Regions from separate parts of the Homo sapiens genome. Here regions 2 and 3 are each linked to region 1. Evidence: fine-mapped expression QTL. A gene starts in region 1. Each other region holds a variant in brackets. All regions are shown on one strand. Distances are between the middles of the regions.

Evidence for each region. PIP is the estimated chance that this variant, and not a neighbour inherited with it, causes the effect.
Region 2: its variant is the best candidate, but not a certain one, in a credible set for the expression of C2orf92 in blood mononuclear cells (TOPMed, PIP 0.50).
Region 3: its variant is the best candidate, but not a certain one, in a credible set for the expression of C2orf92 in stomach (GTEx, PIP 0.86).

Annotation. Positions count from the first base shown.
Region 1 is chr2:97,667,240-97,672,469 of GRCh38, forward strand. C2orf92 (chromosome 2 open reading frame 92) reads left to right here and starts at 2,474. Exons shown (of 8, transcript NM_001351368.2): 1 at 2,474-2,595. The coding sequence starts at 2,550.
Region 2 is chr2:97,026,360-97,031,589 of GRCh38, forward strand. It overlaps the pseudogene TRIM43CP. Among named protein-coding and RNA genes, the nearest start is that of FAM178B, 42 kb to the left of the region's middle. The variant T/C (reference allele first, on the strand shown) is at 3,038.
Region 3 is chr2:98,020,406-98,025,635 of GRCh38, forward strand. No RefSeq gene overlaps it. Among named protein-coding and RNA genes, the nearest start is that of TMEM131, 27 kb to the left of the region's middle. The variant GA/G (reference allele first, on the strand shown) is at 2,135.

The DNA.
Region 1 (5,230 bases):
ATATGAGGCACCTTCAGGTCTCTTTTTTATTTTTTTTTTTTTTGAGACAATCTTTCTCTGTTGCCCAGGCTGGAGTGCAGTGGCGCAATCTGGGCTCACTGCAACCTCCACCTGTCGGGTTCAGGCAATTCTCCTGGCTCAGCCTCCCTAGTAGCTGGGATCACAGGTTCCCGCCACCATGCCCAGCTAAGTTTTTTTTTTTTTTTTTTTTGAGATGGAGTCTCACTCTGTCACCCAGGCTGGAGTGCAGTGGTGCGGTCTCGGCTCACTGCAAGCTCCGCCTCCCGGGTTCATGCCATTCTCCTGCCTCAGCCTCCCGAGTAGCTGGGACTACAGGCGCCCACCACCACGCCTGGCTAATTTTTTGTATTTTTAGTAGAGATGGGGTTTCACCGTGTTAGCCAGGATGATCTCGATCTCCTGACCTTGTGATCTGCCTGCCTCGGCCTCCCAAAATGCTGGGATTACAGGTGTGAGCCACCGTGCCTGGCCCCAAAGATGATTGTCTTATAAAAGCCTATGTAACCCTTTTCATTTTTTCTTTAAAAAATGTCTTCCTTTACCTCCTGGAACACATCCATACTTATTCCCATTGTAATGCCCGTTCCTGAATAAACATCATTGTTTTTTTAGAGAGGGAGAGAGAGTCCATTGGTGAGAGAGTCTCACCAATCTCCTGTCCCCAGGGCACTTCCACCCCTGGGTATTTGTACTGATCAACCAGGTTACGCTTTCAGCATTTGCAAACTCAGGATGGAGATTTTAGACCCTCTTCAACCTCCAGGTTTCCTCTTTGCAAAGGCCAGCAGCAGAAGCAAAAGAGATGGAGCCCGGGTTAGCATTTATTTTTCTATTTACCAGTCATTTGGAATTTGGACATTTTCTGTCCTGTGGTTGTGGTGAGGGTGTGGGTTTTGTGTTGTTTTATATATTCTTTGTTATTTTTTATTCTAGTTTTTGTTTTTGTTTTGGAAGGTATTTTAGAGAAATAAGATTTCTGTGGTTACCATGACCTGCTGTTACAGATTACATGGTACCCTCTCTTCATATGTTGAAGTCCTAGCCACCCCGCCGAACCTCAGAATGTGACTGTATTTGGAGATAGGGTCTTTACAGAGGAAATCAAGTTAAAATGAAGTCATTAGGGCAGGCCCTAATCCGATATGATCCTGTGTTCTTAGAAGAGGAAATGTGGACTCAGGTGTGTATGGAGGGAAGATGTCTTGCAAGCCCAAGGAGAAGATGGCCATCTGAGCCCACGTCCTGGAACAGAGACTTCCCTCACAGCCTCAGAAAGAACCAGCCCTGCTGACGTCTTGATCTCAGACCTCCAGCCTCCAGAACTGGGAGACGATTCAGTCAGCATCTACACAACACAGGGTTGAACTGTGCGGGTCCACTTCTATGCAGATTATTTTCTTTTTTCTTTTTTGAGACAGAGTCTCGCCCGGTTGCTCAGGCTGAAGTGTAGTGGTGTGATCTTGGCTTACTGCAGCTTCCACCTCCCAGGTGCAAGTGATTCTCCTGCCTCAGCTTCCCAAGTAGCTGGGACTATGGGTACTCGCCACCACACCTGGCTAATTTTTGTATTTTTAGTAGAGATGGGGTTTCACCATGTTGGTCAGGCTGGTCTTGAACTCCTGACCCCAAGTGATCTGCCTGCCTTGGCCTCCCAGATTGCTGGGATTACAGGTGTGAGCCACCGTGCCCGGCCCTATATAACTCTTTGTGCAAGTTTTTACCCCTAAAAGATATCTGCCATCTCAGCCATGGAACAGACACTGTAAGAACATGAAGGCTCAAGGGCAGGGCTGGCTACATAATTTGTGGGACCCATTACAAAATGAACATGGAGAAAAAACTAGAAAAAAGTGTAGTACAAGGTACTATAATAGATTTTTCCTTTGAAAACAGTTTAATACTTATAAAATGTAATAGAGGGAAATAGTGACACGTGAGTAACAAAATGGGCGTATCAATTGGTCTATGCTATTTTTGGTGTTATAATTTTACCTAATATAATAAGCAGCAACACTTTGTTAGTGAGACGGGCTTTCACCATGTTGGCCAGGCTGGTCTGGAACTCCTGACCTCAGGTGATCCGCCTGCCTCAGCCTTCCAAAGTGCTGGGATTACAGGTGTGAGCCTCTGCGCCCGGCTGTGATGTCTTGATTGATCATAGGATTTTTCTGGCTATTCTAGCTACTTCCAATTCGCTTCAGCCAATTTAGTTGAAGTTTTATCACTTGTGACTTCAGAGTCCTGGTTAATATCCTGTTGCCCTCAGGACATGCAGGATGGAGGAAGGCACCAGGGAGCCGAGGGAAGTGAGCAGAGAGGCAGTCACTTCAGGGCCACCAGCATAGCCCCCGTCACTGTCCACAGACACAGGCCCTTCCCCTTCTCATGGTTGAGCAGGCTCCACCTCACTTCCGTGTATGACTTCATAGACCGTTAGGTTCCGTGGTACCCTGGAGTCCACAGCTGCTGAATCTGAAGGGCCATCAGAAGACTGGCTTCTCCATGATGGTTTATGGACTAAGGCAAAGATGAGCAGAGCCATGGCCCTCTTCTTTGTTCTCTGCTGGATCCAAGGTATATTGCTGTGGCAGCTGGAGAGAAACATGGGCCTCACTTCAAGCCTAAGTGGGGCAGAGGAGGGCGTTCCCTCCCACAGTGTGGGGAACACAGATGCTTTACCTACTCTACCTTCTATACCTCCCCAAATCTGCCATTCAGGGTTTATTACTTGGGGGAAGGGAGTAACTGAAAACATTTTCCTAACTTTGAAGCTTTCTCAAAATTCAGAGCTCTATAGGAGGGTGGCATACATGCGTATTTTAACTTTTCACTGTAAGCATTTCCAAACATATGCAAAAGTAGAAAGATTAGTATAAAGAACCACCATATGCTAACTAACCCTCCTGATTTTATCTATATATATGCACTATTTAAAAAATAACAGGGTTAGGCCGGGTACAGTGGCTCACTCTTGTAACTCCAGCACTTTAGGAGGCCAAGGCAGGAGGATTCCTTGAGCTCAGGAGTTTGTGACAGGCCTAGGCAACATCATGAGAGCCTGTCTGTATAAAAAATTTTAAAATTAGCCATGCATGGTGATGCGTGCGTGTGGTCCCAGCTACTAGGGAGGCTGAGGTGGGATGATCACTTGAGCCCAAAAAGTCGAGGCTGCAGTAAGCCGTGATCACACCACTGCACTCAAGCTTGGGCAACAGAGTGGGATCCTGTCTCAAAAAAAAAAAATTAGTAATAACTTTATAGGATATAATATATAATAAAATTCACCCTTTATTTTATTTTTCTATTTATTGTTATTATTTTTGAGATAGGTTCTCCCTCTGTCACCCAGAGCTGGAGTGCGGTGGCATAATCACAGCTAATTGCAGCCTCAACATTCCAGGCCCAAGGATCCTCCCTTCAGCCTTCCAGGTAGCTGGGACCACAGGCATGTACCACCACACCCAGCTAATTTTTTAAATTTCTGTAGAAATAGGGATCTCACTATGTTGCCCAGGCTGGTCTCAAACTCCTGGGCTCAAGTGATCCTCCTACCTTGGCCTCCCAAAGTGCTGGAATTACAGGCATGAACCACTATGTCTGGCCAAATTTACCCTTTACAAAGTATATAATTCAGTGGTTTTTAGTATACTCATAGAGTTGTGAAGCATCACTATCTAATTTTATTTAATTTTTAATTTTTTAATTTTTTGAGATGGAGTGTCGCTCTCTCACCCAGGCTGGAGTGCAGTGGCGCTATCTTGGCTCACTGCAACATCTGCTTCCCAGGTTCAAGTGATTATCCTGCCTCAGCCTCCCAAGTTGCTGGGATTACAGGCGTGTGCCACCACGCCTGGCTAATTTACTAAACTAATAAATTACTAAATTAGTAAGTTACTAGTAAATTAGTAATTACTAAAATATAATTTTTAGTAGAGATGGGATTTCATCATGTTGGCCAGGCTGGTCATGAACTCCTGACCTCAATGGATCCTCCTGCCTCAGCTTCCTGAGTAGCTGGGACCACAGGTGCACACCACCACGCCCAGGTAATTAATTTTTATTTTTTGTAGAGTCGGGGGTCTCCCTATGTTTCCCAGGCTGGCCTCGAACTCCTGACCTCAAGTGATCCTCCCACCTCAGCCTCCCCGAGTGCTGGGATTAAAGACGTGAGCCACGGCACCTGGCCTGAATTTTCCTCAAATTCAAAAAATCCTGATGAAGGTTTGGCTAAAATCTTTGGTGAGTTACCCCACTCCCTGTGGAACCTCAGGCTGGATTTGAAGAGTTGCGTGCATGGTCCTCATTGTCTCCCAGGTAACCTGTTCCCGCTGCTGTGAAGGGAAGGCAGGTGCTCTTCCTTGAGGCTAGAATCTGTCTACGTGTCACAGTCTCAGGAAATTAAGCAAAACAGATGATAAACACCTCAAAAGGACCCTACTGAGCATCAGTGGAGCAGAGCAGGGCCATGTGGGACTGCGGCGTCAGATGCCACCTCACACTAGCTGTGACACACCTGCCTCGCCAGTTTCTGCTCTGAGGCCCCAAAGCCGAGCTGAACCTCCTCCAGGGGTTCTCAGCCCTAACTGAGCATGAAAACCCCTGGGGCAATCCTCTTTTTAACAATTGAGACATTCCACACACACCCCACATCAGATTTTGGGGTGTGGGGATAGACCTTCACATTTGTAGTTTTCTAACCCTCCAGGGGACACTAGGCTGAGACTCATTGGTCTCCACTCTGAACCTTCCACTGAACATGTGAGAAAAACTAAGGCCCAGGGAAGTCTTTAGCAGAGAGCTGAGACGGAGAAAAGGGTTCTGAACCACAGCTGTCTGCTGAAGGAAGCTGTCCAAAGGCCAGTGAAGTCTCTCCTGAGGGTGCCTGGGCTGTGCATCAGGAGTGAAGGTTGAGGGTCACCTTAGGTGTGAGAAGGAGCAACTGGGAGAGTGGCGCTGATGCTTCCCCCCGGGTTAGGAGGCATTTGGATCACAGAGCGATGCCTGTTCATTCCTGCTTGCAAGGGAGCAGATCTCTCGACACCCGATGGGCCTCTATTCCGTTCCGGCAGCTGTCCGTGTCAGGAGCGCTGGGCTTGCTCCTCCCCACGGGAGCCATCACAGAGGCCTCGGGCAGTCTGCATAGACAACTGCCTGGCAGGTGACCAGGAGGGGATGCATGAGCAGATGCAGGTAGCACTCGCAGTCCCCC
Region 2 (5,230 bases), 640 kb before region 1:
TCAGAATTCAAAGGTCCACGTCTAAACATCCAACTTCTCACATCCTCAAAGAGCCTGATATTGTGATTGGTTACTTCACAATGGAAGGAAATTTCCACTGTAGAAAAAAGAGAATATTCCAGTGAAAAGCAGTTTACAAATTCTTATGTTCAGATAAGAAAGAGATTCTCACTAGAAAACACAGGTCAAGATTAGAAAGAAACTTCTGTCTGGAAAAATGTTGGAATCAAAGGGTGTTAGGAGATCTGCACAAGTAAATGGCTAAACTAGGATGATCACAATTTCCATAAACTCAAAAAGTATAAAGGGGAGGAAGGTCATGTCTATGTCTCGTTAGCGACCTTTCATAACAACTGAAAAACTGGAAGCTCCTGCACTGCAGCCAAGTCCATAGCAATAAAATTAACCTTCATTGTCTCTTCTCTGTCAGGGCAGAGCAGGAGGCTTTGGACAGGAGATGAGGTGGGCAGCCATTCTTAGTCCCAAATAAAAAAGTTATCACTTTCCAGAAATATTATGATCTGCCACTTAACCTAGCAAATTCATACTTAAAGAGAAAATCTGAATCTGCCTTCTGAAAAGTGCAGATTCCTTGCAAGAATTATCTGACTTTCATGCCAGATTCAGGCACAGACTTCTTTTATTCTGCTGGATTTGTCATGATCTATCCTGGAGTTCTATCTAAGACCTCGTCAACCACCAAATCCTGTTCCTATTGTTGACAGATTCTCAGTTTTTGCATTGTTATATAAGTTACTCATGTATGCTTTAGTTGATTAAAAACATGATTAAAATTATAAATGCTATGAAACTTCACCTAAAAATGTATTTAAAAAAAACACTGTCACTCAAATCAGTCGTTAACTGCACTGAATTTGAAATTGAAATGTCCTGAATTCAGTTCTGTATACTTCATGTAATAATTGTATACATGAAATTGTATCAGAGAATGGTTCCTAAAGTCCTAAAGAGCCCTTCTGCATGTTTTATTTTTCTAAGAAATTTGTTATATGGCTGATTCCTATTACATTTCACCAGCTTTTATTTTGTTTTGTCTGTTTGATGATAGTGAAACTATAAATACCTATTCACAGGCTATTCTCTTCTTCTAGATGAAAGATCATTACACTGGGAAAGCTGCCCATAGAAAACCATAATTGAAGGCATTGCATGGGGATCCCACCAACAGGGCCACACTCACCTCGGAAGCGGTTGAGCCTGTACACCAGTCCAGTGATGGGCCCTGCTGTGAGCTCTGGATTCACAGGCTGGGGCATGTGCAGCAGCACGGGCTCACTCCTGCAAGGAAGTAGGTTGAGTTGGTTAACTTTCTGATGTCTGTGTTTAAGAAACAGATTACAATAGAAAATGCTTCATTCAAGCTCACTTCTGATACCGTAATGTACCTCCACAACGCTAGGTTGGGTTTGTGGCTCTTAGGGAATCTTTCTAACTATTCACTCCATTTCTAACCTACTGCCACTGAAAGATAAATGCCTCTCTCCCTATCTGCCACCAAATAGTTTATCTCTAATTATGATTCTGAATCGCAAAAAGAGGCAACTGTATTCTAGCAACCTCTGCATTGCACTCTTCAAAACATAAACCCCTGAGTCACCTGGGAAAGTAAGAAAAGATTAATATCTGATAAAAGGCATAGGTGACATTCATCATACCACATAAACACATGAGTACACACACATACACACACAATCACACTGACACATTATGGTGTTAGTAAATTATGTTTTCACTTTGTTGGAAACAGCTTGATGTTTTTCATAGCATGCCTTGTGCTCCAGTTTGCACTGGTGGCCAAAAACATACCTTGCCACGATGTCTCCCAAATCCTGTAGAGAGAGAGAGAGAAAAAAAAAATGACTTCTTTAGAAAGTTGTTATTCTTGTTGGGTGAGGTGGTTCACACCTGTAATCCCAGCACTTTGGGAGGCCAAGGTGGGTGGAACACCTGAGGTCAGGAGTTCCAGACTAGCCTGGACAACATGGCAAATCCCATTTCTACTAAAAATACACACACACACACAAATAGTGGGGTGTGGTGGTGCATGCCTTTAGTCCCAGCTACTAGGGAGGCTGAGGCAGGAGAATTGCTTGAACCAAGGAGGCAGAAGTTGCAGTGAGCTGAGATTGGGCCACTGGACTTCTGTCTGGGTGACAGAAGAAGACTCTGTCTCAAAATAAACACACAAAAAAGTTGTTATTCTGCCTATCTGGTCTTCAGGTTTTGAAAACTTTAGAATTACCACATACTATCACTGCAACTATTTTAAAATGTATTCTTATCTCTAACAATTATACCAGTAAGACCTATTGACAATATGGATTTCTGATAAATTAAGGACCCTAAATTTGAGTGAGAGAGAAAGGTGTGAGTAGTGACTGCGCATTGCTGCAGCTGTCTACAACGTGGTCTTTTTCAGGGCTAGTCCCCAAAGTGTAATGTGGCTCAAATCAAGAGCATTTCAAACCTAGGACTTCCCAAAAGGAGGAAGAAGGAAATGTCAGTTTTTCCATAATTTCTATGTATTATCCATTGGAGTTAAAAATAGAATTTTCACATGAAATTTTTTCTTCCAGAGTTTTAATGAAATGCGCTGGAGGAGGAAGCTTGTGGTAGAAAATGTTGTATGGAAAGCTAGTTGCACAATTCCATAAAGCTTTATTTCCATTATATAGGGTAGGAGTTATAGTTTATCTCTATAACCGGTGGGAATGACTCTCATCGTCAGTGCAGGAAACGAAGAAATAATGTCTTTGGTACCCAATGGAAGGCAAAGATGTAAAGGTCAGCTAACACAAAGTGTCTCAAGGGGCATCCTCCGTTCTTACCTGGAGCAGCTCCACATCTGGTTTATGACACATTTCCATTAGTTCCTGATACATTTCTTTTAAGTGTTTACTCTTTTGATCCATTTTGACCCAGCTTCTCTGGAGTTGCTGAAAAATCTCTTGGTATTCCTTGTTCAGTCTCTCTAAATGTTGTTTTTCTTCCTTATGGAGAACCGGATGCAGCTTCC[T/C]ATACTCATTCCTGATCATCTGTGCCCGTAAAACCACATCGCCCTGTAGGGATATGAATTTTGTAGGTTATATACCCAGGCCTACTTCCACATCACAGAACCCACAACTTCATCCTCCTCATTCCTTCTTTTATTTTCCATCCTTTACAAACAGGATGATGAGTTAAGCAAGACCTTCCTTCAAAATTTGTGTAATTCATCAATTCCCAAACATCTGCAAAAAAGCCCTTTGGATTTAAATGTTTAAATCTATGTCCTCTCAAATCGGAAATACCATTAGAAAACAACTAAAATTTATGATTGATTGTTCAGTTGTCATGGATAATACACATAATCTTTGTTACTCAATTAGGTTGTTGTTTCAAATCTCTGTACTTCACAGCCTGAACAATCACTCTTAGTAGAAATGTTTTTAGTATATTATAATCAGGATCAGAAGCCATCACACAAAAAAGATCTTAGTAAAAAATTTAACCCCCATCTCTCAAACCGACTACCTCTTTTCTGTCTCCTGTCTTTCTTCTGTCAAATCCATAGACTCTGTATTGCACTGCCATTCTAAGAACATTAATCCCCATTCCATTGTGTTTCTCCTCTCAATAATGACATATTTATCCTCTCACTGCCCCAGTCATTTTTTATCCCTTCTCCTCAGCTTTTCCTCACGTTGCATTTTCTCCTACTTGGACTGGCATCATGTGGGTCCTTTGCTATCAGATTTCACCAGCACAGGCACATTTCTTAAATTACTGTTCCCACCCGATTTCTTCCCCCTGGACAATATCATATTCACCAATAAATGCCTTTATTTCTCAATTATATACTATTTAATCAACATTTCATAATTAATTTTATACAGAAAACTCTGTCTGAAATACTTATTAATTTTAAGCACATACTTGCCCTTCAGAATTTATATTTATTTTTTACTTATCTGAAAAGCATTTACAGAAAACCTGAACAATCATTATATTGAACAGTCTGGTTGTTTTCCAGCCTATGAATAAACACATGACAAAATCTGGCATATGAGAATTTCAACTCAAGTTGCTAATATAAATGTTGTCAGCATGCCTGTCTCAAGCTGGTCAGGAGGACTCACGGTCTCATACTCACCCTCCAGAGGAAGGCTGTTCTTCTCTCCTCATATAGATTTCTCTGATTTTCTTGAATCTTTTTCCATAAAATCCTCATTTGCTTTAAGAGTTTCTCCTGCAAAAGAATTACAAGGTTGAACAACAGAAAGTCAAATACCAAAGATTCCACAATCTGAGTGGTATACACAGGCAAGGGATCTAATATATAAATACATTAGTGAGAGGAGAAAAAACCAAAATTTTTCATTGCTCATCCTTAATTGATATTTTTCAGTTTGAGGTTTCAGAATGTAGAACAGTTTAGGGAACTGAAGAATGAAGATTTCCTGTAACCCAGCTAAATTAGTTCAGGGAAACATCCTGCTTCAGAATCCACTATGCTAGCCCCTGATTTTGTAGCGTGCTACTCCCATACTCATTTGTCCAGTAATATTAAATATATTTCCAAAATACATTTCTTTGCACTGGTAGCTTTGGTAGCTTTTCAATGTCATTAGCATTGAACTGTAGAGTCAATAATAATGACATTTACTTAATCAGTCTCTTTTTGGGTGCAAGCTCCATGAAGGAAGGTAGAGTTGCACATTTTATTCAAAATGTCATCATTGGTACCTAGAACAGCACCTGGCACTCAGTAAAGAATGGAGTAATCACCGTGATTCTCATCATCCTTCTAATCTCTTTAACTCTGCCACCCTCCAGCTTTCAGGTGATCACAGAGCTATCTCTTACCCGGTGTTCCTCAGCTGCCTCTTCGATGGGATAGTGTTTGTGAGCCCCGTGCTCCTGAGAGTTGGAGCACAGCAAGCAGAGGAGACTCTTGTCCATGTCACAGAACATCTTCTTTGTTTGCCTATGGGTCCCACATATTTGTTTCTCAGAGCTCAGGAATTGCCAGAGACTGGCTTTTCTGGCAATGGTCACTAAATTCTTCAGAAGAATATTGGTTTTGAAGTCCTTTTTCTGTGATGGTTCCCTGCATGCACGGCAGTTGGCAGGACTTTGGGCTTCCTCCCAGGAAAGGCAGAGAGGGCCTGCAGAAGCTGTGCCCACAGCAGATGGTGACAGGGTCTACCAGGTAGTTCAAACAGATGAC
Region 3 (5,230 bases), 350 kb after region 1:
CTGTCATTGACACATTCCTCCTTTCCCCACACTGGGCACCTTCTGCTATACAGTCCCCCTTGGCCCCTGACCTCACAGTCTCAGCCCCTCACATGCTCCCAAGCTGGCCCTCATTCCAACAGCCTTTTAAGCAGCAAGTTGTGAATCAGGGTGTGTCTGAGCCTCCCAGAGTTGCTGTAAAAAAACACTGCAAACAAGGTGGCTTCGAGGAACGGAAATGATTATCTCACAATTCTGGAGGTTGAAAGGACGGAATCAAGGTGTGGACAGGGCCACCTCCCTCTGCAACCTGCAGGGAAAAGACCTTTCCTTGCCTCTCCCTAGCTTCTACCAGTTTGCCAGCAGACGTTGGTTTTTCTTGACTTGTAGGTGCATTGCCCCAATCCTCCCTCTTCACGTGGCCATCTTCTTTCTGCGTGTCTGTCTCTGTGTTCAGATTTCTCCTTTTTATAGGGATACCAGTCATACTGGATTAGGGCCCACCTGAATGACTGACTTCATTTCAACTTGATTACATCTGGACAGACCCCATTTCCAAATAAGGTTACAGTGCTCACACTGTACAGGGGGCTAGGATGTCAGTCAACATATCTTTTCCGGGGAACACGATTCCACCCATCACTGGGTGCTAGGTCAAGGGTTCAGTTCTATGTCCTTCAGCACTTATGAAACTGAGAGGACCCCATGGTTCTGCTTCCTCAAATTACTCCCATCTTTGGGCCTGCCCAGGACCAGGCTGCAGTGATGCCAAGTGCCTGGGCTCCCAGATAACACAGCGGGCAGGCCGTCTCTATGTGAGTAACGCATCTGACGGCTCCCCAGGGCTGGAGATTACCCTGGAGCCCTCCGGCTTCATCTGACCAGGTCTCCTTGCTTTCCCTTCACTTGAAGGGCTATTTTTATCCTGTTGTGCTGTGTGTTTGCTCTCACAATTCTCCTCAACTGTTTCAGGGAGGAAATAAGGTATAAAAATAAATTACATGAATGGCAATTCCCTACCACAGTTTGGTGGCTTCATTACATAGCAGCACAGGGGCAGGCTATGAATGCCAGGGCCCCAGTGTTGCCATGACAACAGCAGGGCGCCGCCTCCTCCACTTGGCCCTTCCCCAACCTCCATTCCCAGTGCCAGTTCAGCCTCATGCCTCTGCCTTCTGAGAAGCCACCCCTGAACAACAGACAGGGCTGCAGCCCTCCTCGTGCTGTCCCAGAACCCTGGGCCCTTCTGGCCACTGCACTCACCGAGTGGCCTTCCCTTAGTTCTGTCTCTCTAGAACACAAGCTCCTAGAAGTCAGGGACCATGCCTGTTCCATCGTTTGCTCCCATCAGCATCGAATTCAGAACTCTACCCATAGTAATTGCTCAAGAAATGCTAACGAATGGTAGAAGGGAAAAGCCTATGGGGAATTGCCACAGCAGACTGGAGGACCAGGAGCTGTGATCATGGAGGGTGTCCCCAGAGCTGCTGTTATGTATTGCCACATGTACCTATTTAAATTCAAGCTTAGTTAAATTTAAATTAACTGAAACTAAAAATTCACTTCCTGGCCGGGTGTGGTGGCTCACGCCTGTAATCCCAGCACTTTGGGAGGCTGAGGCAGGTGGATCACCTGAGGTCAGGAGTTCAAGACCATCTTGTCCAATATGGTGAAACTCCATCTCTACTAAAAAAACACAAATTAGCTGGGTGTGGTGGCACATGCTTGTAGTCCCAGCTACTAGGGAGGCTGAGGCAGGAGAATTGCTTGAACCCGGGAGGCAGAGGTTGCAGTGAACCGAGATGGCACCACTACACTCCAGCCTGGCCAACAGAGTAAGACTCCATCTCAAAAAAAAATTCACTTCCTCATTCCCACTGGCCACAAATGCTAAATGGTCACATATGGCTAGTGACTATCATATTCGACAGTGTAGCTGCTGAACATTTCCATGATCACAGAAAGTTCTATTGGGCAGTGCTGCCCTAAGAGGACTCCATAACCAGTGTCCCTGGGGTGCTCTTGCTGCTTGTTAATTGCACTCCCAGCCCATTGGAACCATTTAACTAGATTTAACACTAGGAACCAAAGAGAAAATGTCAGCAGTCTATCCCTCTGTCAGGATCATGAGCTAATGTCCCCTCACCAGAGAGAG[GA/G]AACACAAGTGACTCCTTAGTTTTTCAACAAGCCTCGACCTTTATGCCTCCATGTCTTTGCATATTCAGTTCCTCTGCCGGGGAAGTCCACGCTGATGAGAACTCCTGAGTTCTTATCTATGCTTCAGGTGAAGGCAGAAATGCCTGTACATGCATAAATCCTTTTCCCCCTCATCCTCCCCTCAATTGTGTGTGTGTGTGCGTGGGTATGTAGAATCTATCTTCTCACACTACATCCTCTCTATCTGTTATGCGGTGGCATCGAAATTGATGAGCAGATAATGTGTCGTAATTAGCCCAGAGGCAAAAATCAAGCAGAACCAGAAGTGCCTTAGAAAATCTCTTAAATCTGCTGCAGAGCCTGCATCCTTGGTTTCATTTATGCAAAGCTATACAGAAATTCTTATCCTCATAAGAGAGGGTTCTACATGAAGAGAGGTACAGTCATTGGATGCAGGCAGGCTCTAATGATACAGTCCATTAAAATGGAGACCAGGTCTGAAGAACCCCTGAGCAGACAGAACCATAAGTCAGGCCTCACAAATGACCACGACCTTGCTTGATTTGTAAACATAAGCAAAACTTAACTCGAGCTATTTCTTGTAAATATTTGTATTAAAGGAAAACAGAACTTAAGCTCAACCAGTCAGAAGCATCCAACAAACTTGTAATTATATAACTAGAGACTTTCCAACAGGATAGACTAGGGGTCCCCAATACCTGGGCCGTGGACTGGTACTGGTCCGTGGCCTGTTAGGAACTGGGCCGTGCAGCAGGAGGTGGGTGAGCAAGGAGTATTACCGCCCCAGCTTTGCCTCCTGTCAGATCAGCGGTGGCATTAGATTCTCAAAGGAGCACAAACCCTATTGTGAACTGTGCATGAGAAGGATCTAGGTTGTACGTGCCTTATGAGAATCTAATGCCTGATGATCTGAGGTGGAACAGTTTCATCCCGAAACCACCCCACAGCCTTCCCATCTGTAGAAAAGTTATCTTCCATGAATCCAGTCCCTGGTGCCAAAAAGGTTGGGGACTGCTGTTCTAGTGGATTCTTTTTAAAGTAAACTTTTTGGCCTGATGCGGTGGCTCACGTCTGTAATCCCAGCACTTTAGGAGGCCAAGGTGGGCAGATCACCTGAGATCAGGGGTTTGAGACCAGCCTGGCCAACATGGTGAAACCCTGTCTCAACTTAAAGTACAAAAATGAGCCGGGCATCATAGTGGGCGCCTGTAATCCCAGCTACTCAGAGGTTGCAGTGAACAGAGGTCGCGTCACTGTACTCCAGTCCGGGTGACAGAGCGAGACTGCATCTCAAACAACGACAACAACAAACTTTTTAACTGAAGTTTCAGGTTGTGATACAATTTATGTTGTGCTGGCCTCTTAATCTTTTTGTCTTTTCTCTGTAAAGGTTTACATAATATCGTGGGATATTGGGAGAAATTTTCTATTGGCACCATCAGAGCTTAGCTTATTCTTTGTGACAGATTTTAAATTATATATTCATTTTTACCTAATAAATATAGAATGACTTATATTTTTTATTCCTCATTGTGACTATTTTGGAAAATAGTGCTTTTCGAGGAATTTGCTCATTGCATCTAAATGTCTAAGTTTATTGGTATCAAGTTATTTATATTGCCTTCTCATTATCCTCTTATTGTCTTTAGGATCTTTATAACTGTATGTTGGTGTTTTATGCTTTTTCTCTATTTTTCTTCATTGGTTCAGGTAGGAGATTATCAATTTTATTAGTCTAAAAACTAATTTTAGGCTTCTTAGATTTTTAAGTATTGCATGTTTGTTTTTTATTACATTGATTTTTGTTCTTTATTATTTTCTTCTTTCTATTTCTTTTGGTTTTAATTTGATGATTATCTTCTAGGTTTCTTGAAATAGTTACTTAGGTAATTGCTTTTCAGCCTTTTTCTCCCATTATAAATGCATTTAATGCCACAAAGTTCCCTCTAAGTATGACATTAGCTGAATGCCATACATTGTCTGTTTTTTTTATCATTTAAAATATTTCATAATTTCCATTGTGATTTCTATGTTGACTTCTGGATTATTTAGAATAATCACATTTTCTTGTTAAATTGACTCTTTTATTATTATAAAATGTTCTTTGTCTCTAATAATAGTTCTTGTCTTAAAGTCTACTTTGTCTGATATAGCAAAGCTACACAATTTACTTTTGGTTATATTTTTTCTATCCTGTTAATTTCAACCTTTCATAGTTTCTATATTTAAAATATTTCTTTTAAGCAGCATAGTTTTTGGCTCATTTTAATTGAGTCTGACAATGTTTTCGGTTTTTAATTACTTAGTTCATTTACATTAATATAATTAATTCTATATCTGGGTTTAAATCAACCGTCTTATCCATTTTTCTATTTGTTCTATATTTTCATTGTTTTTTAATATTTATCCTTTCTTGACTTCTTTTAGATTAACAACCTTTTTTTGGTTGTGTTTTTGTTATTCCATTTCATGCCCCTTCCTTTATTATTAGTTACATATTCTCTTATTATTCGCTTGCCTTAGAGATTGCAAAATGCATTTTTGACTTTGTGAGTGTCCCTTAAATTAATGCTTTCACCACTTTTCAGACAGTGCAACGACCTTAGAATGCTTTATTATATGTAGTTTTGGAGACAGGGTCTCAGTCTGTCACTGGGGCTAGAGTGCAGTGGCACAATCACAGTTAACTACAGCCTCCACCTCCTGGGCTCAAGCAATCCTCCCACCGATGCCCCACCCCACCCCAGGGAAGCTGGGACTACAGGTGCGCATCACTGCATCTTGCTAATTTTTTAGATTTTTGGTAAAGACAAGGTCTTGCTATGTTGCCCAGGCTGGTCTTAAACTGGGCTCACGGGATCCTCCCACCTCAGCCTCCCAAAGCGCTGGGATTATAGGCATGAGCTACCACACCTGACCAGAACACTTTGATTTTATTACCTTCTTCTTGCCTTTTATACTATTGCTGTTATGTGTTTTAATTGAACATATAAGATCCTCAATAAAAATACTATTTAAAACTCAGTATTGACTTAGATTTATCCTCATGTTTCTGCTGGTTCTCTTCATTCCT